Regions from separate parts of the Homo sapiens genome. Here regions 2, 3 and 4 are each linked to region 1. The links come from fine-mapping of genetic effects on gene expression. A gene starts in region 1. Each other region holds a variant in brackets. All regions are shown on one strand. Distances are between the middles of the regions.

The links. PIP is the estimated chance that this variant, and not a neighbour inherited with it, causes the effect.
Region 2: its variant is the best candidate, but not a certain one, in a credible set for the expression of TTI1 in whole blood (INTERVAL, PIP 0.67).
Region 3: its variant is the best candidate, but not a certain one, in a credible set for the expression of TTI1 in cerebellar hemisphere (GTEx, PIP 0.57).
Region 4: its variant is the best candidate, but not a certain one, in a credible set for the expression of TTI1 in tibial nerve (GTEx, PIP 0.70).

What each region holds. Positions count from the first base shown.
Region 1 is chr20:38,028,891-38,036,594 of GRCh38, reverse strand. It overlaps TTI1 (TELO2 interacting protein 1), which reads left to right and starts at 3,139. Exons shown (of 8, transcript NM_001303457.2): 1 at 3,139-3,191. RPRD1B (regulation of nuclear pre-mRNA domain containing 1B) reads right to left here and starts at 2,849. Exons shown (of 7, transcript NM_021215.4): 1 at 2,497-2,849. The coding sequence starts at 2,647. It overlaps LOC124904898 (a long non-coding RNA gene), which reads right to left and starts at 2,489. Exons shown (of 2, transcript XR_007067579.1): 1 at 1,190-2,489. RefSeq lists enhancers at 2,217-2,812, 3,013-3,282, 2,813-3,408.
Region 2 is chr20:38,007,950-38,012,949 of GRCh38, reverse strand. It overlaps TTI1 (TELO2 interacting protein 1), which reads left to right. Exons shown (of 8, transcript NM_001303457.2): 2 at 1-1,435. Among named protein-coding and RNA genes, the nearest start is that of TTI1, 23 kb to the left of the region's middle. The variant AT/T (reference allele first, on the strand shown) is at 2,312.
Region 3 is chr20:37,966,336-37,974,039 of GRCh38, reverse strand. No RefSeq gene overlaps it. Among named protein-coding and RNA genes, the nearest start is that of TTI1, 63 kb to the left of the region's middle. The variant T/A (reference allele first, on the strand shown) is at 3,732.
Region 4 is chr20:37,985,806-37,990,805 of GRCh38, reverse strand. The region is part of intron 7 of TTI1 (TELO2 interacting protein 1); the gene reads left to right. Among named protein-coding and RNA genes, the nearest start is that of TTI1, 45 kb to the left of the region's middle. RefSeq lists an enhancer at 142-221. The variant G/T (reference allele first, on the strand shown) is at 2,514.

The DNA.
Region 1 (7,704 bases):
TTTTAAACTATATAACAGGCACCACGCGATATCCTGTGGTGTTGCAAATAAACAAGAAGGTCTAGTTCCTCTCTCAAAACATAATCTAATGACAAAGATGTAACCAGTTCAAATGAACAGCTAGTAGGAACAAATTAAATGCTAAACTGGTATGATGGGGTGGGAGGCACTCATTAATTCTAATAAATGAAAGCACCACAGTTTGATTGCAGTCAGGTGACCACCTTCACTTATTAAATGCATTGAGGCACTGAGTACATGAAAAAGAACACATTTTGGCATCAGGCAGCCCTGGGCTCATGTCCTAGCTGTATGTCTGTGGACAAGGCACTTAATCCCTCTATACCTTTATCATCTCATCTATAAAATGAGGATAATAATGCTAGCCTACTTGCAACATAAGGCTTTACCACGTAAGATTAGGGATAACGGAGCTTCATACACAAATGTACTCTCTAATTTGCTTTTTTTCAGTAACTCAACTAGGGTGAGGCAAGGAATCAAGAAAGTGTCACAAAAGAAGTGACACTTGGCCAGGCGTGGTGGCTCACACCTGTAATACCAGCACTTTGGGAGGCCGAGGCGGGGGCATCACAAGGTCAGGAGATCAAGACCATCCTGGCTAACACAGTGAAACCCCATCTCTACTAAAAATACAAAAAATTAGCTGGGTGTGGTGGCGGGCCCCTGTAGTTCCAGCTACTCGGGAGGCTGAGGCAGGAGAATGGCATGAACCCGGGAGGTGGAGCTTGCAGTGAGCTGAGATCGCACCACTGCACTTCAGCCTGGGTGACAGAGCGAGACCCCCATCTCAAAAAAAAAAAAACAAAAAAAATGACACCTGAGATGGACTTTAACTGCCTCTTGAGGTCCCACCCAATAGAATTCTGTACAGTGGCAATTCACATTTCAGCACACTCTTCAAATAATTTCTGAATGGCACAGTGGGGTACATGAAGAAGGCCCCATAAACTCCAGGCTCTACCTCTTCCCGGAACTGCCCGAAGGGCTGAGGGGATCCCTATCTCAGTACAGTACGCGATATTTGGGGGCAGTCCCTGCTAAAGGGCTAGAACTGGGTCTCCTGAAAAAAATCATGAAGATTTTGGTGTTTGCCAGCCTGTTGTAGTCTGAGCCTGTTCAGTTCGAAAGCCTTGAAAATACCACTTAGCCACTTCAGTTTCCTCACCTGTAGAGCAGGACATCTGTGGTGTCCCCAACTCACAGATAGTATAGAACACTTGTAAAGCCACTTCGCTATAAAGGCCTACCACATATAGGGTGTCTGGAGCAGCTCTGAGCTTCATTTCTTCAGTCTTCCATTATGAAACTCATCCGGGAGTGTAGGTGTCCATCTTTCCCCACCAGACTGTAAGCAACTTGAAGGTAAAGACCATGCCTCACAGTGAGTAATCAAAAGTCTCATCTCACCATAATCTGCTGAATGCCTACACTGTGCCTCACCCCATGCTAAATGTTCATTTGGATTATCCCGTTTACTCCTCACCACGAGATGAGTCTCAGTTTTTCCTCTTCTGCAAAGTTCCTACTTCATAGGGCTCCGAGAATTTTTTTTAATGGCAATGTATGTAAAGATATCAGTACTGCACTTCGCATGTAATAAAGACATAGTAAATTTCAGTTATCCATTCTGTAGATAAGAAAATTAAGGCACAGACAGGTTAAGTTGCTGGGGTCAGTAAGGCGGCAAAGTCAGGCTTAAATTCTAGGCAGTTGGCAGAGGCAACATGCTGCAAGTGTCCAAGCCAGTGCCTGGCACATAACAGAATGAGTTCAATGAATTGTCTGTCAGAACCTGAGCAGGGCCTGAAATCAATGACAACTGCATGAGAGAGGAGAGGAGAGGAGAGGTAAGGTCTGGGTGGCCCCTTAACCTAAGATGGGAGAGACTACCTACTTCACAGGGCTGTTCTAAGGACTGAGTGCGAGGATACACACAAAGGTCTTAGTATAGTGACTGGTATGAAGTAAAGGCTTTGTAAGGGGTAGCTATCCTTGCCTCCCTCTTACAGATGAGAAAACGGAGACACAGGGAGATGAAGAAACTCTCCCAGTATTATTCAGCTGGCAAATAGCTGAGCCAGGACTCGATCTGCAGAGTCTGACTCCGGAGCCCACTGGCTTTTACTCCAAATACCCAGCACTGGGCCCGACATGCTAGGGCCAGTACGGCAGTGAATGCAGCCGAGATAATAACAGCCACAAATGTCAGGGGGAAACTGAAGGGAAAATGGCTTGATGAACTAGAAGTCTGGACACCTGAGTCCCAGTCCGTGGACCCTCAGGCAAGTACCTTAAACCTTCCCGGGCCTCAGTTTCCTTCTTCGAGAAATGGGGCTAACTTTGTCTCCCATCTCAGAAGCTCGATCAGGCCTGGAAAGCAAGGCTCAATGAAGAGGCTTAGAGGGGCCTAGGTTGTATGTGGGCGAGAGGACAATCCGGGGACCGTCCAGGGGGTGGGGATTTGGTGTTTACCTTTGCGGAGCTCGCGGTGCCACACGGAGACGATGGGTCCCGCGTGCTTGCGGTGGTGGATGAGCCAAAGGGACAGGGTCTGCACGCTCTGCTGAGAGTTGCTCAGCTCCGAGAGCTTCTTCTCCAGCGCCGACTCAGAGAAGGAGGACATGGTGGCGGCAGTGAGGCCCGGCAGGGAGCGGCCTGGGCCGCCCAGTGCGGCGGGAAGAGCGACGGCACGAGGCCGGGGCCTCACCTGACAGGCTGCGGGACTTTTTACCGACTGACAGACTGCCAGGGGTGCGAGAAGGGGGAGGGGATGGGTCTCCGCAGTAACAGCCGCCCGCGCCGCCGCCACAAGATGGCCACCCGACCTCTCACCCTGCCGCGAGAGCGAGGTCAAAGGGCAAGGGCCGGAGCAGAGGGGCACCGAGAGGCGTCGGAGCTCTAGAAAACCGTCCCTTTGGAGGCGGCGGCCGCTCTGAACCTCGCGCAGAGCACTTCGAAGGAGACAGAGCGAGGCAAGGAGAGTAGTTCCCCGGGCCCCCGGAAAGAGCTTTGACCGCTCGAGCCTGCACACCGGCGCAGTGGATCTCGCCGGAACCCTTTTTCCCGCTCCCTCGGAACCTTTCTGGCGCGATACGGCGCGCTACTTAGCGCGTCACTTCCGGCGAGGCAGAGGAGGCGGGAGAGTGAGAGAAAGGCTGGAAGACGAGGTAAGGGAAGAGTGGCGGGAACCAGAGGGAGCCCAGCAGCTGGGACCCTGTAGAGGGGTATCCTGAGGGGACATTGAGTCTGAGAGATCATGATCTGGATATGGGAGGGGGATTTCCTTTCTAATCTGGCGGGCCCCAGGCCGCATCTTTCCTCCATATGTGTTCGGCTCTCTGGCTGTCCCCCAAAACACTTAGTTTTGGTTCTTCCAAGCCACCCACGTGCCCTTTTCACGCCTCCACGCCCTGGCGCTCGTTCTCTGTCCGAAAGTGACATCCCCTTTCTCACCTGGTGAGCTCCTACTCAGCCCCCCGGAGCACCCTTTAATGTCCTGTTTTGACCTTTTAGTCTGTAACAGCGCCGTCATGAAACACACATTTGGGCTCTCGGCTCTTAAGTGGGTTCTCACTCAGGGTATTATTACGTGCTGCTTTTGCCGTCTGCGGGTCCAGTTGACTTTTTCGAACTTAAGTGAGGTGTTAACTTTAGGGAAAAGGTGGAGGGAACTAACTTAGCCTTCCCAATGTGTCTGTTGACCTCATGTTGAGACACACTATTTGAGGCCTGGCGCAACGTCTCTTGCTTGTAATCCCAACCCTTTGGGAGGCCGAGGCGAGAGGATAGCTTGAGGACTGGAGTTCAAGACCAGCCTGGGTAACAGCGAAAATTAGCCAGGCATGGTGACGCTCACCTGCAGTTCCAGCTACGCGAGAGGATACCTTGAGCCCAGGAGTTAGAGGTTACAGTGAGCTATGATCGTGCCACTGCACTCCAGCCTGGGCGATGGAGCGAGACTCTTCTCTGAAACAAAACAAAACACTATCTGAGACTCTAAACCTTGACCCTATTTTTTTTTTAAGTTTTAAATCCCAGGTATCAAAGCAGCAGAGAAATTTTGTTTTTCTTACTGCCACGGGGGTGATGGTAGGGAGTTAAGTTATAGACATAAGAGGGTTTTAAAATTTCCTGATCGTGGTATAACTTCCTAGTTGTGGGCAGACTCTAGTTTAGGAGACGTTCTTCTAGTTGATGCCTGCTTTTGCTCTTATTGCACTGTATTGCAGTTCTTTGCTTACATGCTTTTACCCTTCCTCCAGACTGGAATCATAATCATAGCTAACGCAGTGAGAGGTTACTATGTGCTAGACACAATTCCCACACAGTAACTCATTTAATCCTCACAACAAAGCTGTGAGGTATTATATTATCCCCCTTTGGACAGCGTAGGAAACAGGCTCAGAGAGGTTAAGTGACCTACCCAAGATCACATTACTAAGACTTGAGGGAAGGGGCTGCAACTTAGCCATCTTTTTGGCCCCAGTTCCTGATTTATCAAGTGAGTTAGTGTAAAAGAGGTGAGTAACCTAAAATCATACAGTGAGTATCTAGTCATAACTGAGGGCTTTTGTGTCGAAATCTAGATCATCTTTCCATATTAATAACACTGTCATATACTGAGCACTTTTATACCAAGTCACTGTCTATTAAGCACATTACATACTTTTTAAATTTAATTCTTACATCAGTCTTAGGAGTTGAAATTATTACAATCACTATTTGATAGACGAGAAAATGTAAAGCATGGTTAAGTACCCTATGTACTTGGACATAGTTAGGAAATAGCAGAGCCAGGAGTCAAATTAGGGTTATCTTATGTCTGATCCCAAATTCTTGCCTCCTGAACCAATAGTTTATTCATTCATTCGGAAAATAATTTTTCAGCACCTATGTCCAAAGCACTCTTCTAAGCTAACAGACAAAATCCACGTTCTCAGGAACTTACTTTCTACTGAGAAAGATAGAAAAACAAACATGCAAGTTTAGAATAAGTCAGAAAGTGGTAAGTAACTTCAATAAAAATCAAGGAGATAAGGAGGATAAGGAATGTATATGTGTAGGTGGGTAGTCTTTTACTTATGCTTCTCAGAGAAGGCCTCATTGATAAGATGTCATTTGAGAGACAAGCCATATGCCATTGTTCCAGGAAGAGGGAAAACCAAGTTTATACCATTGTTGGCATTTTGGAGCAACAGCAGAGAGGACAATAAAGCTGGAGTGATATGAACTAGAAGGGTGGCTGGAAATTAGTTCAGAAAAGTACGAAGGGACTGCATCACATGGTGACTTGTAGGCAATAGTATAGACTTTAGATGTTACTCTGAATGAAATGAAGTCCACTGGGCAGTTTTGCACAAAGAAGGAGCATTGTGGCTGTTAGGTAGAAAATAAGACAGTAAGAGTGCAAAGGTAGAAGCAGGAAGGACCAGTTTGGCAGCTGTTGTAGTAACCCAGGTGAAAGGATAACTCAAACCAGGGTGGTATCTGTGGAAGTGGTAAGAAAGGGACAGTTCTGGGGATATTTTAGAGGAAGAGGTAACAGGATCCGCTGATAGATTGGATATGGGGTGTGAAAGACATATGAGAGTTGAGATAGCTCCAAGGGTTTTGGCCTAAGCAACTATAAGAATAGCGCTTCCATTTACTGAATTACAGAAAAGAGTGGGTTTGGAGAGTAAGAGCAAGCATTTGTATTTGGACATGTCCATTTGGAAATGCCTATCTGAGTATAGATGTCTAAGGGGCAGTTGGGTTTATGGGTCTGGAATTCAAGGAAGAGCTATCTGGGTTAGAGATAAAAATGTGAGAGTCATAACGGAATAAGGTGTAAAAAGAGACTGAGTCCTAGGATTCTTCAACATATAGAGGTCTGAAAGGTGAGGATGATATGATTATGTGATTTTTCTTCTTAAGCTTGTTAATAGCTTGTTAGTATTAACAACTCTAATTGATTTTCAAATATTGAGCCAGTCTTGCATCTCTGAAATATACCCCACTTTATCATGGTGTGTGTGTGTGTGTGTGTGTGTGTGTGTGTGTTTTACATACTGCTGAATTTCCTAATATTTTCTTTAGGATTTTTGCATCTATACTCATGAGAGAAATTGGTCTATAGATTTTTTTAATTTTTGTATTGCCTTTGGTTTGGTATCAGGATAATACTGGCTTTATAAAATGGATTGGAAAGTGTTTCTTCTTTTTCTAGAAGAGTATGTGCAGAATTGGTGTTAATTCTTCATTAAATGTTTGGCGGAATTCTCCAATGAAACCATCTTGGTTTGGAGATTCCCTCCACTCCCTGCTTCCCTCCCTCCCTCCTTCCTCCTTCCTCCCTCCTCCCTCCCTCCCTTCCTTCCCTTCTTCCTTTTTTTTCTGGAGTTTTTAAGTGACAAATTCAGTTTATTTAAAAGTTATAAAGCTGTTAAAATAATCTCTTTCCTATTGTGGTTGTGTTTTTTGAGGAATTAACCACTTCATCAAAGTTGTCAAATTTATATGGGTAAAGCTATTTGTGGTATTCCCTGTCTTTGTTTTCTGTTGCTTATAACAGAATACCTGAAACTGGGTAATTTATAAAGAAAAAGGATGTATTTCTTACAGTTATGGAGGCTGAGAAATCCAAGGTCACAGGGCCACATCAGGTAAAAAACTTTCTTGCTGGTGGGGACTCTGCAGAGTCCCAAGGCAGTGCAGGATATCACAGGGCCAGGGGGCTGAGTGTGCTAGCTGAGGTCTGTTTTGCTCTTATAAAGCCACCAGTTCCCATGATAACCCATTAATCCATTTATGAGGGCTTATAAAGACTCCACTTCTCAATACATTGGGAATTAAATTTCAACATGAGTTTTGGAAGGGACGGATATTCAAACCATAGCATTCCCATATTACCCTTTGATGTCTGCAGGGTCTGTAGTACTGTCCCGTTTCATTACTGATATTGGAAATTTCCAGTATCAGTGTCTCGTCTCTTCTCTCTCCTCTCTCTCTCTCTCTCTCTCTTGCTCACTCACTCCCTTGTCAATCTTGCTAGAAGTTTGTCAATTTTATTGACCTTTTCAAAGAACCAGTTATTTATTTCATTGACTTTCTGTGTTTTCTGTTTTCAGTTTTGTCAGTTTCTGCTCCTTATTATTTCTTCTGCTTGCTTTATTTTGCTCTACTTTGTCTAGGTTCTTGTGGTAGGAGTTTACCTTTTTCGTTTGAGACTTTTCCCCTTTTCTAATATATGACTTAGTACTATTAATTTACATCTCAGCATGGCTATAGCTGTATCCACAGATTTTGGTGTGTCATATTTTCATTTTCATTCATTTCCCTATTTTTTTTCTAATTTCCCTTAAGGTTTCCTCTCTGTTCCGTGGATTATTTAGAAACATGTTGTTTAGTTTCCAAGTATTTGGAGATTTTCCTGTTATCTCTGTGTTAGTGATTTCAAGCTTGATTTCATTGTGGCTGGGGAATGTCACTCTGTATGATTTCAGTTCTTTTAAATTTGTTGAGGTTTGTTTTATGGCAGGATAATCATCTGTCTTATGTTCTATGAGCACTTGAAAAGAATGTGGGCTAGGCACTGTAGCTCATGCCTGTAATCTTAACACTTTGGGAGGTCAAGGCAGGAGGATCACTTGAGCCTAGGAGTTCAAGAACAGCCTGGGCAACATGGCGAAACTCGGTCTT
Region 2 (5,000 bases), 22 kb after region 1:
CTTATTAAAAAGATAATTGAGTGTGTTTCTGTTCACCCACACTGGAAGGTGAGACTGGAACTGGTAGAACTTGTGGAGGACCTTCTTTTGAAGTGCAGTCAATCATTGGTCGAATGTGCTGGTCCCCTTCTGAAGGCCTTAGTGGGACTAGTAAATGATGAGAGTCCTGAAATCCAAGCCCAGTGCAATAAAGTTCTGAGACATTTTGCAGATCAAAAAGTAGTGGTGGGCAACAAAGCCCTCGCTGACATCTTGTCAGAAAGCCTGCATTCCCTTGCCACATCTCTTCCTCGCCTAATGAACTCCCAAGATGACCAGGGCAAATTCTCTACTCTTTCCTTGTTACTTGGTTATCTGAAACTCTTGGGCCCAAAAATAAACTTTGTCCTCAACTCTGTGGCCCATCTCCAGCGGCTTTCCAAAGCACTCATCCAAGTTCTAGAGCTAGACGTGGCTGACATCAAGATTGTTGAGGAACGGCGTTGGAACTCTGATGATCTGAATGCTTCTCCAAAGACCTCAGCCACACAGCCTTGGAACCGCATCCAGAGGAGATATTTCCGCTTCTTCACTGATGAGAGAATCTTCATGCTCTTGAGGCAGGTTTGTCAGCTACTTGGTTATTATGGGAATCTTTATTTGCTTGTGGATCACTTTATGGAACTTTACCATCAATCTGTGGTTTACCGGAAGCAAGCTGCCATGATCCTTAATGAACTGGTTACAGGGGCTGCTGGGCTGGAGGTTGAGGATCTTCACGAAAAACATATTAAAACAAACCCAGAAGAACTGAGAGAGATTGTGACATCTATACTTGAAGAATACACAAGTCAAGAAAATTGGTATTTGGTTACCTGTCTTGAAACTGAGGAAATGGGAGAGGAGCTGATGATGGAGCACCCAGGCCTCCAAGCCATCACGTCTGGTGAACACACCTGCCAAGTTACATCTTTTCTAGCCTTCTCAAAGCCAAGTCCCACTATTTGCTCCATGAACAGTAACATCTGGCAAATATGCATTCAGTTGGAAGGAATTGGCCAGTTTGCATATGCACTAGGAAAAGACTTCTGTTTGCTCTTGATGTCAGCCCTTTATCCAGTACTGGAGAAGGCTGGAGACCAAACCCTACTCATTAGTCAGGTGGCTACCAGCACCATGATGGACGTTTGCCGTGCTTGTGGCTACGACTCCCTGCAGCACCTGATCAATCAAAATTCAGACTATTTAGTGAATGGGATCTCTTTAAATCTGCGTCATCTGGCTCTGCATCCTCATACCCCAAAGGTCCTGGAAGTCATGCTGCGGAACTCAGATGCTAACCTGCTTCCTTTGGTGGCAGATGTGGTTCAAGATGTCTTGGCCACCCTGGACCAATTTTACGATAAGAGAGCTGCTTCCTTTGTCAGCGTTCTGCATGCTCTGATGGCAGCATTAGGTACATTGAGAGCCCTTTTTAATGCTGATGTGTGGGGGACAGGACTCAGTCTCCTAGTTTGCTTAGCCTCGTTTTTTGCATTGTTTGTGGTGATGCTATGGAGGACGTTTTAATCATTTTCTCTCCAGTCCCATAGGTTATGGGGGGGTTTCACTGTTTATCTTTTATACTTTCAGTAATCTCTACCATTTATTGAGCTCCTGCTCTATGCCAGGGTATAAACCCTGCAGAATAAATGTAAATATTATTTCTATTTTATAAATAAGAAAAACTAAGGGTCAGTGACATCCTACTTAGCCAGGGTCACACAATTAATAAATGATAAAATCAGGATTTATGACAGTTTTGTTCTTTCCAGTATAGCAAACTGCTTCTGATGATGCATAGAGTTAGCAGTATCTATGCTAATGAAGAACAGATATAACGTGAATTATTCAGTCACATATTGTCTAGAACGGTACTAAGAGAAGTTTCTTTGATGATAGAAATAATCTTTATTCGTTCTATCCAGTACAGTTACCACTATACACATGTGGTTCGTGCACCTGAGGAACTGAATTCTATATTTTACTTAATTTTAATAGCCACATGTAGCTAGTGACTACCATACTGGACAGAGCAGGTCTAGAAACTTCCTTTTAACCTTTTAATTGTGTGAGTTGGTTTAAGTTTCTCTTCTTCCCACTGATCCTATTGGGTGCTTACCGAAGATGTTAGCCACTATTAGAATGGCAAAATTGGCTGGGGGCGGTGGCTCATGCCTGTAATCCCAGCACTTTGGGAGGCCAAGGCAGGCGGATCAAGAGGTCAGGAGATCGAGACCATCCTTGCTAACATGGTGAAACCCCGTCTCTACTAAAAAATAAAAAAAAAAAA[AT/T]TAGCCAGACGTGGTGGCGGGCGCCTGTAGTCCCAGCTACTTGGGAAGCTGAGGCAGGAGAATGGCCTGAACCTGGGAAGCGGAGCTTGCAGTGAGCCAAGATCGCGCCACTGCACTCCAGCCTGGGTGACAGAGTGAGACTCTGTCTCAAAAAAAAAAAAAAAAAAAAAGGAATGGCAAAATTTTGGACTTCAATTATAAGGAAAGGAATCCTTCAACTGGATAGTCAATCTTTCAATGAGAAAATAATAAGCTGTATAGCTTGGGTCCCTTTTATTTAAAGAGCATATTTCCAGTATTTATCTCAGTACTGCTAATAGCCTCTGAGAAGGTGGAATGGTCACTGGCCTCATTTTGTCAGTTGAAAAAGCCAAGACCTTGTAAGAAACATTCTCATGGAAGGTAACTGGGGCAGGGACAGTGCACTGCCCTGTAGCTAATGCCATTTCCAGTGTTTGTTTATTCATGCATGAGCATTCACGTTCAGCATAAATGTTCCTTTTTCATTCATTCATTCAAGAGTGCCTGCCATATGTCAGACACTGTGCTAAGTAATGAAGATAGAGCAGAGAAAAAGACGAATAAACTCATGGAACTTCCCTGCCACTGCAAGAGAGATGATAAACAAGTAAACAAATCATTAGACAAGCTCACGGCAGATTCTGATAAACACCGTGAAGGAAATAAACACCTCAGTGTAACAGACACAGGCTCCTATAAGTTCAGTGGTCAGGGAGGGCCTCTCTGAGGAAGCAACACTAAAGCCAAAACCTGAAGGATGAGAAAGGCCCATCAACACATAGGGGGCTATCACATTTATTTTTAAGAACATTCAGGCCGGGTGCCGTGGCTCACACCTGTAATCTCAACACTTTGGGAGGCTGAGGTGGGCGGATTGCTTGAGCCCAGGAGTTCAAGACCAGCCTGGGCAACCTAGTATGGCCTCGTCTCTACTAAAAATGGAAAAAAATTAGTTGGGAGTGGCGGTACATGCCTGTAATTCCAGCTACTTGGGAGGTAGAAGCATCACCTAAGCCCAGGGAGGTCAGGGCTGCAGTGAGCCATGATTGCACCACTGCACTCCAGCCTGGGTGACAGAGGAAGACTGTCTCAAAAAAAAAAATAAATAAATAAAAATTCAGGTGGGAAGGCCCAGAAGGAAGAAGGGGCATGGGTCTTTGGAGAATGGAAAAGAGGCCTTTGTAGAGAGTGTTGCAAGATGAAGTTGGAAAGAAGGGCAAGGACAAATCCTGGTAGGGCCTTGAGGAGCAAGAGAAGGAGTTTGGATTTTATTTTGCAGCTACTTGGAAGCCTGTGTAGTGGGCTAGTCACTGGGGAGTCAGCCATGAATAAGACCCACTTAGGCCTGCCCTCGTGGAGCCCCTCATAGGACTGACTGGTTGCTTATGCAGACTAAGACTGGCTTCCATGGGCCAAATATATCCCACCTGTACTGCTTTAGCGACCTATGCTATGTTTCAATTTGAAATTTTTAAAATGTAGGTTAAGAAAAGCCCTGTGAAATATATCTCTCAAGAGGTATCTGAATTTGGGCCTTCAAAATTGAATTGTCTTAGATTGCTGATGTCTTCGGTCATCTCTGAAGGAGGAGTGTCAAGACTCCTGTGTAGCTTTGTAGTGCTTTTAAAAAAAAAAAAATGAGGTGGAGGGAGAGGGTCTCCCTTGCAGAAAGGAAAATTGAATGGTTAAGACTGACTCTGGGGCTTCCTTGGAACAGAAGCAAACTTAGAGCTAGCTTTTATGAAAGTTTTGAAATAACCCAGAATACACTCACTTTTTGAACAGGAAGTAGTACTCAGGTGGAGTTGGTATAGTCACTCATAAATCAGAGTAGTACCTTTTGCTGTCATTTCTGTTTGTCATAGAATTATCTAACTGACGTCCACTCTTTTAAGATGGGTGTGGAAATGTGTTCTCAGAGAACTTCTGAAAGGCCTTAGAAGAACCCAGTAAGAGCTTTAGGAAATTGAGTTATCATTAACATAGTGTGTCACATGCAGTGACTAAAAAAGCATTAGGTGCCACGGTAAGGGCAAGAAGCATCAGTTAATTACTGCTTAATCCCAACTGCTGGTTAGCTGATTATTCATAACAAGAAAAAAATAGGGTAGCTTTGAAAATAAGTATTTATGTCACATACTTCACAACTTGGAGAATGTGCTGCTGCATTCTTTTTATGGCTGCATAGTATTCCATCACGCGTCTGCACCATAGTGTATTTAACCAGTCCTTTCTTGGTAGACATTTTGGTCATTTCCAGTCTTTGGCCACCACAAAAAATGCTGCATTGAATATCTTTGTAGGTCATTTTGGACATGTCTCAGTATATTAATAGGATGAATTTCTGAAAAAAATGCTGGTTTAAAGGGTATTACGTTTAAATTTTTGAGAGAGTATCAAATTGCTCTCTAAGAGGTTGTACCAATTTAAACTCCATCAGCAATGTACGAGAGTGCCAGTTTTGCCACGCCATCACCCACACTGTGTATTACCAAGCTTTTGATCTTTGCTAATCCAATAGGAGAAAAATAGCACCTTATTATAGTTTTAATTTGCATTAAACGTGAGATTGAGCTTCTTTTCATATGTTTAAAAGCCATTTGTGAGCAAAGACATTTTAATGTCTGTCACCAGCCTTGAATCTAGAAATAATCTTTGCAGCATATC
Region 3 (7,704 bases), 63 kb after region 1:
GTGGGCGCCTGTAATCCCAGCTATTCAGGAGGCTAAGGCAGAGAATTGCTTCAGATCATACCACTGCACTCCAGCCTGGGCGACAGAGTGAGACTCCGTCTAAAAAATAATAATAATAATAATAATAATAAGCAAAAAATAAGCAAAGGAATCTTGGAGAGGATGCCTCTCAGGGAATGGGTTGTATCCCCGTGGGCATGTAGGAAGATGATCTCCCGCCCATGCCCTAGCTCATCTGAGCCCCCTCAGAACCCCAAGAGAGGCAGGTCAGGCCTCGGAGCTTTTCCTGACTACCCATGTTGAAATCAGGGCACTGCAATGCCGCCCTCCTCGCCACAGCTCTGCGTGGGGCTTGCAGCCTTTTTCTCATGTAGGAGTCATATTCCTTTCTGCATCTTCAGCACCTGACAGAGACACACGACAGGGTCATGACTTGCCGCTTCATCTCATGGTCATGATGACTGACATATCCAGTAACTCCTCCAGAGACATTAAGAGCAAAGACAGGATTCTAACAGGAGGCTACTGATCAGTTGCATGATCAGTTACAACAGGGTTTATGGAACAGGATCTGAAATCTGCTGGTTGGAAATTTCAACAAGTATTTTTCAAGGCTTTCTATGTGCCAGCCCCAGAGACAAAAAGACATGTATACTGCCTCTTAGGAGCTAGGCTTACAGGAGAGCTAAACAGGGCAAGTTCGTGTGAGAAGACAGCAATAAGTCTGCATTGGGAGGAGGTAGGGAGCGGCAGTTAAGCTCATGGGCTCTGGAGATAAGAAGGCCTGCCATGTGGCCTTGGGAAAGTCTCTTCAGGACTCTTAGCCTTGACGAAATGAAAATAAGAACAGTACCTCCCTGGGAGCATGGGACACCAGAGTGGTAGAGTGATAGACTCAGGGACCGGCTGGCCCCTGGGAGGTGCTCTATCAGAGTTGGTCACCACCATGAAGATGATGATATTCAAAAATATAAATGGCAGCCCAGAGGTTGAACCAAAAGGCAATTGGGAGGCTTCATGGAGGAGACACCACCAAGCTGGCATTGCAGTATTTGCCCATGAAGTACACACAGGGAAGGCCCGCTCTGGACAGAGGGAACAGCAGGTACAAAGGCTCAAACAACACATTTAAGGTGTTGCTCGTGTTGATGTAAGGTGGGGGCAGTGGGCAATGAAGATAAAGAAAAAGGTGAAACTTCAGGAAAGCAGGCCAGTCTGTTCAATACCCGAGAGGTGGGCCTGGGCTGTACATCTGGCGGGCACCCAATAGGTGCGTGAGTAATGGGTGGGTAGCATTGCCATAGGGAAGTTGTTCTCTGGGGCTTTTCTGCAGGGTGGAATAGGGTGGATGAGGAATGATGGGCAGAGCTCACCCTTGCCAGGCCACTCCCAGCCAGAGCTGAAGGGCCTGGTTCCTAAGGTCCCACTGGCAGCAAACACTAGGGTCCTAACCCAGGGTATTTCCAGCTTGTGAGCACCTGCTTTGCTGATTTCTGGAAAGTCTACACAAAAGAGGGGGTGCAGTCCTTGAGTTTACACTCCAGTGTGGGAGGCCAGACTTCCATGAGAAACATTTTCATTTAGTAATGGCTTTAATGAGTGCAGAACTTCCTGTTTTAAACAAACAAGTGATTAGCATTGACTATAGATGTGAAAATGGATCCTAATGAATTGCTAATTAGCCGCCTTCTCTTCCTGGGATCTTTAGCTGGTAAATTCCCTCTCTAGCTATAGGGAGCCTTAGTCGATCAGACTGGCATTGATTCATTCATTCATTCAACATACATTTTTTGAGTCCCTACTGTGTGTCACTGTAAACAAGAAAGGGAGGATCCCTTCCTCACAGTCTGATGGAGGAGACAGCATTAATCACCTAAACTTAAAGACCTATAATGACACACTTACAGGCCAGGGAGCTGGGACAATGTGCAACAGGAGGACCTGATCTTGCCCTGGGGTGGGAGGGGGCAAGAGGAAGGGGCATTTGAGCCAAGATCTGAAGAATAAGTAGAACTTAACTCATGGAAGGGGGAACAGAAAGAGTAGAAGAGTGGCTCAGACATCCAGAATGGCATATGCAAAGGTGTTGTGTTGAGAGGGAGCAGTGTGAGTCAGGAAAAATGAAGCCAGTGTAAGAGGTGTGCAAGAGGCGTGTGTGTGTGTCACAGAACGAGAGCATGTGTAATTGATGTTGGCTTCATCCTTTGTAGCAGACAGTAAGTACCCAGTGCCCACTCCACATCCGTCAGGGCTTACCACCTCGGTGTGCTCCAGCCAACTTCCAGCTGCCCTGCATTTGATTTCTTTGACTAAGGATTTTCTGCAGGTAAGGAAGGCCTTCTGTCTCCACGCTTGGCAGGCCAGAAGTCCTGGTGAATTAAGCAGGTCTTGGGAGCAACCCTCAGCCAATAACTGATGTGTAAAAATCACAGCTCCCCAGTGTAAGAGTTAAAGAAAGAGGAAAGAAACAGGAAATGAGGCTCAACAGTCAAAGACAGGTTTATCTTAGAGAAATAAACCTGAGAGGGGCTTCTGGCCGATTTAATGTTGAGCTGCATTTCATCTTTCTTTCCTCTTTCTTAAACTCTTAAACCCAACCCCTTGGGCAGGGTAACTTCAAGGTGTGTATTCTACACTGGCTCCCACAGTTCCCTAGTAGGACTGAGCCCCACTTGGGCACAGTGGTATAACTTCCTTGACCCTGCACTCTTTCCCTGTCTCACTTCCCCATGTCCCTACTGGTGCTTCCTGGGATTAGGTCCAAATGAACTACCTGCCCTCAATTCTTTGTCTCAGTACCTGCTTCTGGAAGAACTCATGATAAGATATCCTGGAAACAAAACACAGATACATTTCAAGTCCCTTCCACATCCTAGTTACCCTTGCCTGGATCCCCTCCTCTCTCTCACTTGCTTCCCTTACTGAGTGTATCTGTAGACCATGGTGGCCCAGCTGGGGTCTGCTTAGCACACCAGAGCTTCTTAAGGTAGGTCACTCAGAGGGAGCCATTTGGTTCCCAGAGAGGCCAGTGGTATATGTCCATGTCCCCATCCCATCATTAGCTCCCCCTTCTTTGAATGCACCATCCTTCAAATGCTCCCTGCCCCTTGTAGCTGAAGCAGACCACCTTGAGGAGGAATCCAAGTGGCTGGCCTGTGTGGCCAGGGGCAGGGACAAGAAGTGCTGAGTGAGACACCTTCCGTACTCACCAGCCTTGCTTTCTTTTGTGTATGAATTGAAAGGATTCTCCCTGGAGTTGAAAAATAAACATGTTTTCTGAATAATATGGCATATTGACCTCGAAGTCCCTACAGCAGTTCTGGACAAAGCCAGGCTCAGGTTAGGGCCTGCCATTATTATCATTCATTCAATAGAAGTGATTCATTGTCTGTCCTCCCCTTCTTAGCAACAGGGTCCTGGTATTTAGGCATACAGCTGATCCAAATAAAGGCCATGGTTTCCAGTTCTCCCTGCAGCTGGATGTGGCCATATGACCAAGTTCTGGCCCATGACAGATAAGCAGAAATGATCTGCAACTACAGCCAAGTCTCCATAAATACAGGGTGTGTTCTCTTCCCATGTCCTCCTTTCTGCTGGCTGAAGTGCATACTCAGTGATGGGAGGCAGAGTGGCCGTCTCGGGCTGTGAAGGGAAGCCAGACTAGAGTCAGCAGATATTGTAGTAACCAGGTAGAAATGCCAACTAGTTGAAAATTAAGTGTCTAATGAAAC[T/A]TGGGGAAGGAGAAACCAGGGCTCCTAAAACTTCTTTTGATTAAATAAGATGCAGTAGGTCCAAACTTTGACCCAACACTTATAAGCTGTTAATGTCTGTCAGAGGCAAATCTTTTATTCACTGATTCATTTATTGAGCGGGTGCCAGGAGCCAAGCCCTGTGCTAGTCATTGGGGATGCAGCAGGAAACAGGACACTTGGAGTCTGTGCCCTCCTGGAGCCTTCATTACCATTTCTAGCATTTTATTCTAAAGTGTTTCTGCCATCACCTCCAGTCAAGACGGCATTGGGTTCATGCTTTAAAAATAACCTCTGCTCCCCAGCTGGAACTCGTACATTGTGGATGGGAATGCAAAATGGTATAGCTGCTTAGGAAAACAGTTTGGGAGTTTCGTATAAAGTTAAAGCAACCCCACTCTTAGGTGTTTGCCCAGGACAAATGAAAACATGTCCACACAAAGACTTGTATATGAATGTTCATAGCAGATTTATACGTAACAGCCCAAACTGGAAACAATTCAAATGTCTATCAATAGAAGAATGGTTAAAAATGGTTAAAAAATTGTGACATAACCATACAACAGAATACTACCCAAAAAGGAATACACATATTAAAAGGAATATCCATATTACTGGATATACACAGTAATATGGATTAATCTAAAAATCACTACATGTGATGAGATTAAATGGCAGATAGGAGGCCAGACTAGCTTGCAGCTCCCGCTCGGATGGACAGAGCAGCCAGTGGAGACTCACATCGTGAACTTTTGCTCCAAGAACTACTACAGGTACATACTAGGAAAGCCGAGAGAATCCACAGACCCTTTAAAGGAACTGGATCACTGCTGCAGGCTCCCTGAGATGCCAAAAACCTGTGAGTCTGCTTGCTTTCTCAACAGGGAGGCTCGTGGTCTGGGGCAAGTTCTCGGCCCTGGTCACCGGCTGCCTGGAAATAGACTCAGTGCTGTTGGAGGGGCATGGTAGGAGTGAGACCAGCCTTTAGGACTGCAGGCTGCATAGGAGTGGGTGAGGCCCATGACTGCCAGCTTTCCCTCATTTCCCTGGTGACCTGTATGACTCAGCAGAGGCAGCCATAATCCCCCTGGGAATATAACTCCACTGGACTGGGAAACAGTCCCCTATTCCCCACAGCAGCTGCAGTAAGCCCTGCCCAAGGAGAAGCTAAACTCAGACATGCCTTTCCCTGCCCCCTCCTGGTGGTCTTTCTCTACCTGCCCTGGTAACTGAAGACAAAAGTCGTAATCTCTTGGGAGCTCTGCAGCCCTGCCCACTGCCTGAGAATCCTGAATACTTAACCAGTTGTCTCTAGGGCAAGTTTGCTTCCTCCGTGTGGGACCGCAGCTGATGCACTCTTGAAAGCACCACCTCCTGGCTGGAGGCCAACCAACTCAAAACCAGCACTCTAAACAAAAACACAACCAAAGACCCTCACAGAGCCCACTTCACTCCCCTGCTAGCTCCACAGGAGCAGGTGCTGGTATCCATGGCTGCAACACCTGAAGATGGATCACATTACAGATTACAGGACTCTGCAGATGCTTCCCAATACCAGCCTAGAGCCCAGTAGCTCCACTGGGTGGCTAGACCCAAAAAAGCAAAAGCAATCACTACAGTTTGGCTCTCAGGAAGCCCCATCCCTAGGGGAAGGGGAAGAGCACCACATCAAGGGAGCACCCCATGGGGCCAAAGAGTCTGAACAGCAGCCCCTGAATCCCTAATCGTCCCTCTGACATAGTCTACCCAAATGAGAAGGAACCAGAAAAACAATTCTGGTAATGTGACAAAACAAGGTTCTTTCACACCCCCAAAAGATTATACCAGCTCACCAGCAATGGATCCAAACCAAGATGAAATCTCTGAATTCCCCCCAAAAAATTCAGAAGGTCAATTATTGAGCTAATCAAGGAGACACCAGAGAAATGTGAAGTCCAACTTAAAGAAATCAAAAACATGATACAGGAAATGAAAGAAAAATTCTTCAGTGAAATAGCACAAATAAAAAACAATCACAACTTCTGGAAATCAAAGACACACCTAGAGAAATGCAAAATGCACTGGAAAGTCTTAGCAATAGGATTGAACAATCAGAAGAAAAAACTACAGAACTCAAAGACCAGGCTTTCAAATTAACCCAATCTGTCAAAAACAAAGAAAAGAATTTTAAAAAATAAAGCCTCCAAGAAGTTTGGGACTATGTTAAACATCCAAACCTAAGAATAATTAGTGTTCCCGAGGAAGAAGAGAAATCTAAAGGTTTGGAAAACATATTTTAGGGAATAATTGAGGAAAACTTCCCCAGCCTTGCTAGAGATCTAGACATCCAAATACAAGAAGCTCAAAGAACACCTGGGAAATTTATCGCAAAAAGATCATCATCTAGGTACATAGTCACTGGGTTATCTAAAGTCAAGATGAAGAAAAGGATCTTAAGAGCTGTGAGACAAAAGCATCAGGTAACCTATAAAGGAAAACCTGTCAGATTAAAAGCAGATTTCTCAGCAGAAACCCTACAAGCTAAAAGGGATTGGGGTCCTATTTTTAGCCAGCTTAAACAAAACAATTATCAGCCAAGAATTTTGTATCCAGCAAAACTAAACTTCATAAATGAAGGAAAGATACAGTCTTTTTCAGACAAACAAATGCTGACAGAATTCACCACTACCAACCCAGCACTACAAGAACTGTTAAAGGAGCTCTAAATCTTGAAACAAATCCTCAAAATACACTAAAATAGAACCTCCTTAAAGCATAAATCTCACAGGACCTATATTACAATAACACAATGAAGAAAAAGGTATTTAGGCAACAAATAACAGGATGAATAGAATAGTACCTCACATCTCAATACTAACATTGAATGTAAATGGCCTAAATGCTCCACTTCCAAGATACAGAATGGCATAATGGGTAAGAATTCACCAACCAAGTTTCTGCTGTCTTCAAGACACTCATCTGACACATAAGGTCTCACATAAACTTAAGGTAAAGGGATGGGAAAAGATATTCCATGCAAATGGACACGAAAAGCAAGCAGGAGTAGCTATTCTTATATCAGACAAAACAAACTCTAAAGCAACGGCAGTTTAAAAAGACAAAGAGAGACGTTACGTAGATAAAAGGACTAGTCCAACAGGAAAATATCACAGTTCTAAATACATATGTACCTAACACTGGAACTCCCAAATTTATAAAACAATTACTACTAGACCTAAGAAATGAGATAGATGGCAATACAATAATAGTGGGGGTCTTTAATATTCCACTGACAGCACTAGACAGGTCATCAAGACAGAAAGCCAACAAAGAAACAATGGACTTAAATTACACCCTACAATAAATGGACTTAACAGATATTGATATTTACAGAACATTCTACCCAACAACTACAGAATATACATTCTATTCTTCAGCATATGGAACATTCTCCAAGATAGATCATATGATAGACCACAAAACAAGTCTCAGTAAATTTAAGAAAATCGAAGTTACATCAAGTGCTCTCTCAGACCACAGTGTAATAAAATTGGAAGTCAACTCCAAAAGGAACCCTCAAAACCATGCAAATACATGGAAATTAAACAACCTGCTCCTGAATGATCACTGGGTCAACAATGAAATCAAGATGGAAATTTGAAAAAATTCTTTGAACTGAAGGATAATAGTGACACAACCTATCAAAACCTCTGGGATACAGTGAAAGCAGTGCTAAAAGGAAAGTTGATAGCATTAAATGCCTACCTCAAAAAGTCTGAAAAAGCACACATAGATAATCTAAGGTCACAACTTAGATTATAAGATCTCCTAGATAATCTAAGGACAAACAAGAACAATCCAAACCCAAACTCAGCAGAAGAAAAGAAATAATGAAGATCAGAGCAGAACTAAATGAAATTCAAACAAACAAAAAAATACAAAAGATAAACAAAAAACTGGTTCTTTGAAATGATAA
Region 4 (5,000 bases), 44 kb after region 1:
TTGGGAGCAGAATGTTCTCGATGACAGATCGAGCCTGGTCGCAGCACCGCCTGCACAAAGTGGGTTTTGGTCATCAGAGGCTGTGGTCGACCACAGGGTAGTCATTTCCTCATTCTGCAGGCTCTGTCATCCCTCTCGAACACCTCAGAGGCGTGGAAGTAAATGTTGTCTCAGTACTGAGTAAATAAAGTAGCCAGGGAGATGATCTCTATTTGTCTTATTGTATAGATGTATTTTAAAAGATTTTTATTGGGTCTCTTATGATGAGCCAAGTGCTGTGTTGAGAGTTGAAGATTTTCAGAGATAACTACCAAGGCCTCACATTGTTGTTCAATAACAAGATAACCTTGGCAAATTAATTCACTTCTCAAAGTCTCTGTTTTCTCATCTATAAGACCGAAAAAAGCATGTATGTTATTTTGCTTATTTCACCTACTACAATGACGACAAGGATTCAGTAAAGTCAGGTAGCACAAAATACCACCACAGAGTAAAAGTCACTAAATAGTAGTTGTGAATCATTATTTAAATTTCTTCTTATTCCGAAAATGACTTGGAACATCTTATAAATTGTTTGCAACAAAGAAAAAAGGAAGGAAGTGAAGAAATTTTTTAAATGGAAAAATAACAGCAAAAACAAGATGAGACCGAGTTGAGGTTAATATAGACAATACAGTTAGAGCCCTGCACCCTTGCTAGAGAGGAGCTTTCAGAGTGGCTCTGTGCTTCCTGACAGACAGCAAAGAGGAAAATGGTACAGGAAGTACCTGAATAAGAGTTTTTAAAAAGAAAAGGAAAGAAAGCTTTTCAGAAAGAAGCATGGCTTTCCTTATTACTGACGCTTGAGGAAAATTTCTCTGTGGGTCATCTTAAAAGAACACTGGGTACTGTTGTGACTAATATCCTCAACGTCCTTGCAGTAAATACAGAAGGACATTTCCTAGAGCTGTTTCTGAAGGCATCCGTGAGTGGAGGCTGCTGGCTTAGTGCCAGAGCACAGGTTACAGGAAAACAGTTCAGGCAGGAGGTGGGCAAGCCTACCTAGGCTGCTATGAAGATGTCTTTATCTTCAAGGGTACATACCTTCCAGGGAGGGGCAGGAAACAATGTGGCCCGAGAGTGCAGCCAGCTGGGGGAAAGGTCCGAGTCAGCCCTCATAGTGCTCAGCACAGAATGCCACTTTGAAATCTGTGCCCAATACACTGTCGTGGGATCTAGGCTTGCAGGGTTCCTGGAGGCAGGAGAACTGGCCAGATGGAAAGGGCTGCTTTTAAATCTCGCCCCAGTGGGATGTAAACCCTCCTAGATTCTGGCTTATTTTTGAATTGTCTATAACAGATTGGACCTCTCAGCGCCATATCCTTTTAAATATGCACAAAGCAATGGAATCATTCCTCTGCATTTATGATACTTTATCTTGTGGCACTTCAGAGGTATGGTTAGCATCATTTGCTTCTACTGGTGTTTACGGTTTTAAGTCCTGCCCATGTTGCATTTAAATATTTTTGATATGGGTCTCTGTGTGAGTATGCATGTTGGCGTTAGATCGATAGATGAATGGTTTTGAACAGGTAAACATAGTTAAGTCAAACGAGCATGTATAGCTGCAAAGGTAATTGGTAGTATTTATTTGGAGAGTAAATCGTTGCTTCAAGTCATAATCCTCCATTTCCAACATTTAGAAATAAAAAACGACCTCCGTGCAGGGGAAGATAGCTAAATTGAATAGCAAGAAAGGACAGGCTTGAAATACTGGTTAACCAATGAACTGAGACCCATTAGAGTAAATTACCAAGTATAGAAACATAGCCCCACTGCTTGCTGGCTAGGACGCATCAACACCCTGAGCATCCATTTGTTTAAAAGGAAACACACAGCCTCCTTTGCAGCATCAGCATGCACAGAGTGATGGGAGAAGAGATGGCCAGAGAGGAGGAGAGTGTGGAGGCTGTGCTGCCAGAGAGGGAACAACGGGAACACCAAAATAACTTAGTGAGTATGCCTGCTTTCCCACAAGTGAGCTTACTTTCCCACTGCATTTAACCATGCCCACATAGAGAGAGCCTGTATCGTGTTCCTAAGGAGACATTTCTGAGTAACTTCTTTAGAAGCCCCAAATAAGTAAGCAAACAAACAGATCACAAAGCCACATGTTCTTTACCACTGGCATTTACCCTGATGGCTCATGAGAGCATTTTATAAATCCAGAAAGAGACGGAGAACAGCAGATCCCTCAAGCAAGTAATTGACACAGGAAGAATAGCCTGTCACCCAGGAGAGCTGGAAGCCCTGCATTTCAGTTACAGTTTATTTAGCTTCACTGGGCCCTCATTGGCTGGCGGTTTTCTAGATCTCTCTTTGAGCAGATGTTGTCTAGACAGAGATGGTGAGAACATATTCTGTAATATTCGCTCCTGCAGCAGAGCAGAGGGGGTTCTTTTTGGTTTTGCCATATTGTGGGGTGGGGTGAGTAATGATCCAGTGCCCATGATTGAAAACTCTCGTGGTCTGTT[G/T]GAGCTACCAGGGATCTTAGAACTGATCTGGTCCACTCGCTCTTTACAGAGAAGCAACTTGCCGTGCCTCTCCTCAGGAAGCCATGCCTGGTGCCACCCGCACATCACTTCTAGGCTGGCCCTTGCAACAGTGTGCCATGGGCCTCTGTGATCCCTTAGTCTACCCCAGCAGACAGGGAGCCCTGAGGGCAGAGGCTTTTTTGTCCCTCTCTCTTTGTGCCTCAAGCACCTCAGTTAGGGCCTGGGCTGGACCAGGCTTTAGTAAACGTTTGATAAACCATGAAGAGATAAAACTTAAACCCAGCTGACCAGATTCCAGGAGCACGTTTCCTCCCTCCCCATTCCCACCTCCTCGCCCCCAGCTTGCTCACTAGGGGCACCCCCATACTGATCACGAAGGAAGGAGCCACTTCTGGTTTGGCATCTGGAGTTTATTAGGTACTTACTGATAGCCGTCAGTTGTAGATAGGGCTGAAGTGCAGGCAAATGGCTGCCTGCATGGAGTGAAATTCAATAAAACTGCATTTTAAGTGAAAAATCAGTATAAACACCAGGCTTCTTTGCCATGGAAACAGTTGCTTAGAAACTGCCTAACAGCGAGTTCTAAATTTTTTAAAGTCAAGTTATCATTTAAGCTACACGGCCTTACAGGTTATTGAGAGATAATCACTCGCCTCAGGACACTCGGAGGCATGTGGCACAGCTGAGTGCCTCCCGATACTCTGGGGACCAGATAATCTCTTGATAACTGTGCTCTCTGGAGCCACTGATTTGGGCCTGGGGGGAGGAGAAAGAAATTTTTGTTCAGGAGTTAAATGGTGTACATATATTTTTTAAAAAGTGTTTCTCTTTGGGTTTGAAAAAAGATGGAACTGGCCATTTGGTATGTTCAACAGCCATCCCTGCGCATCGCAAAATGTATTGGGAACATTTTCCAGGCAGTTACCCCAGTCACTTCAAAGCAGAGGTCCTGTCTTTGTCTTCTGGCTTTGGCTTATGCAAAAGGAGTTTTCAACAACTTTGGCTTTCAGCTGTTCACTCTCTGGTTTCAGCTAAGGCTGGGCAGGAACTGGCCCCAGGACAAAGTGACACCAGAGTTTGGAACAAAGCCTGGCGCTAAGGACTCAGATCAGACCTCCTGGGCCTCAGGCTCAGCTCCCAGGGGCTTAAAGCCAACAAGGGTGCGGTTTGGAATTTGTCGTGTTTAGAGTTCAGCAGGCCGCCTGCCTCTCGGAGTGAGAGCACAGCTACACTTGCCAGCCATCTGGTTGCATGGCATGGCATTTGCTCCCCACCTCAGGCATGCAGAGGACAAAGTATATTGCATTTGTTTCTTCCTGAAAATAATGGGCGAAATTAGAACATCATTGGCTGAGAACTGGGATACCCCCACCAAGTCAGTATGGAGAAAATTATGAGTGAAACAAAAGACAAATGTTTTGCCCTTTTCAGGGTATCTGAAAATTATCCATGGCATGGTAGTGCTGCTAAGATTGGTGGTGTTAATTATGCCTCAGACTCTGTGTCCCTCTCTCTCTCTTTCTGGAAGAAAAGAAGGAATACTGTTTTCATCATATACTTCAAAGTGTTGTCCTGCACCTCCTCTCCTCAGAGCCTCAGAAGGACCTGTGAGGAGAGTGGGCCAGGTGTGATCATCTTTGGAGAAAGAGGAAACAGGTTCATGAGGCAAAATCACTTGCTCTAAGCCACAGAGGTGGGAGAAGGAACGTGCATTCCTGCCATTCTGGGGCATCTGCCCCTTTAAAAGCAAAGAAATGAGACCCAAAACAGTCCTTCCAAGAGTTTGGCTCTTGCTTAATAAAAGAAGGTGAACTTTGCACAAGTTTTTCCTTTGCTTTTCTGTTAATATTTTATGTGGATATCTTGCAGGGCAAAAAGAGTGGCTTATTTTCTTTTCCTTTCCTGCCAACAAATACGACATTCATATTTAGCATGTTAAAAAGAGCTCAGAAAATGAACATTGCAGCATTTTCATGCTGTGTAAGTCAGAGCGCAGCTATGACTGAACTGGGTCGTGGCACCGCTTTGCTGGGTGTTGCCCAGATAAAAATATTCCTTGAAGCTGGGAGAGCACCACGCTGTAGCTTGAGAAATTGTTCCAGCTCTTGAAAGGGGAAAAAATCAAATGAAACCATTTGCATTCTAACAGTCTTTGGCACCAGGGAAAACTGTCAACTGTGTCACGTGTAAATAGAAATCTGCTCCCCGCTTTTGGTGCGTTTTTTCATAATTTCCCTTGCCACTCTAATTATCAAAGATATTTTTATTTTTAAACAAAAATTGTCTCCCACGCAGGCCTCATCTTTCTGCGGTGAAGTGGAAACGATGAATTAGAATATTCTAATCACTTCTCCAACAACCACTATGGAGGTTATAAACACAAGATTATCCTAGCAAAGAAAAGTAAATTGTTTGGGCACAGAACAGGCCAGGAAAAAATTCAGTAGGCCGGGCCCGGTGCTCACA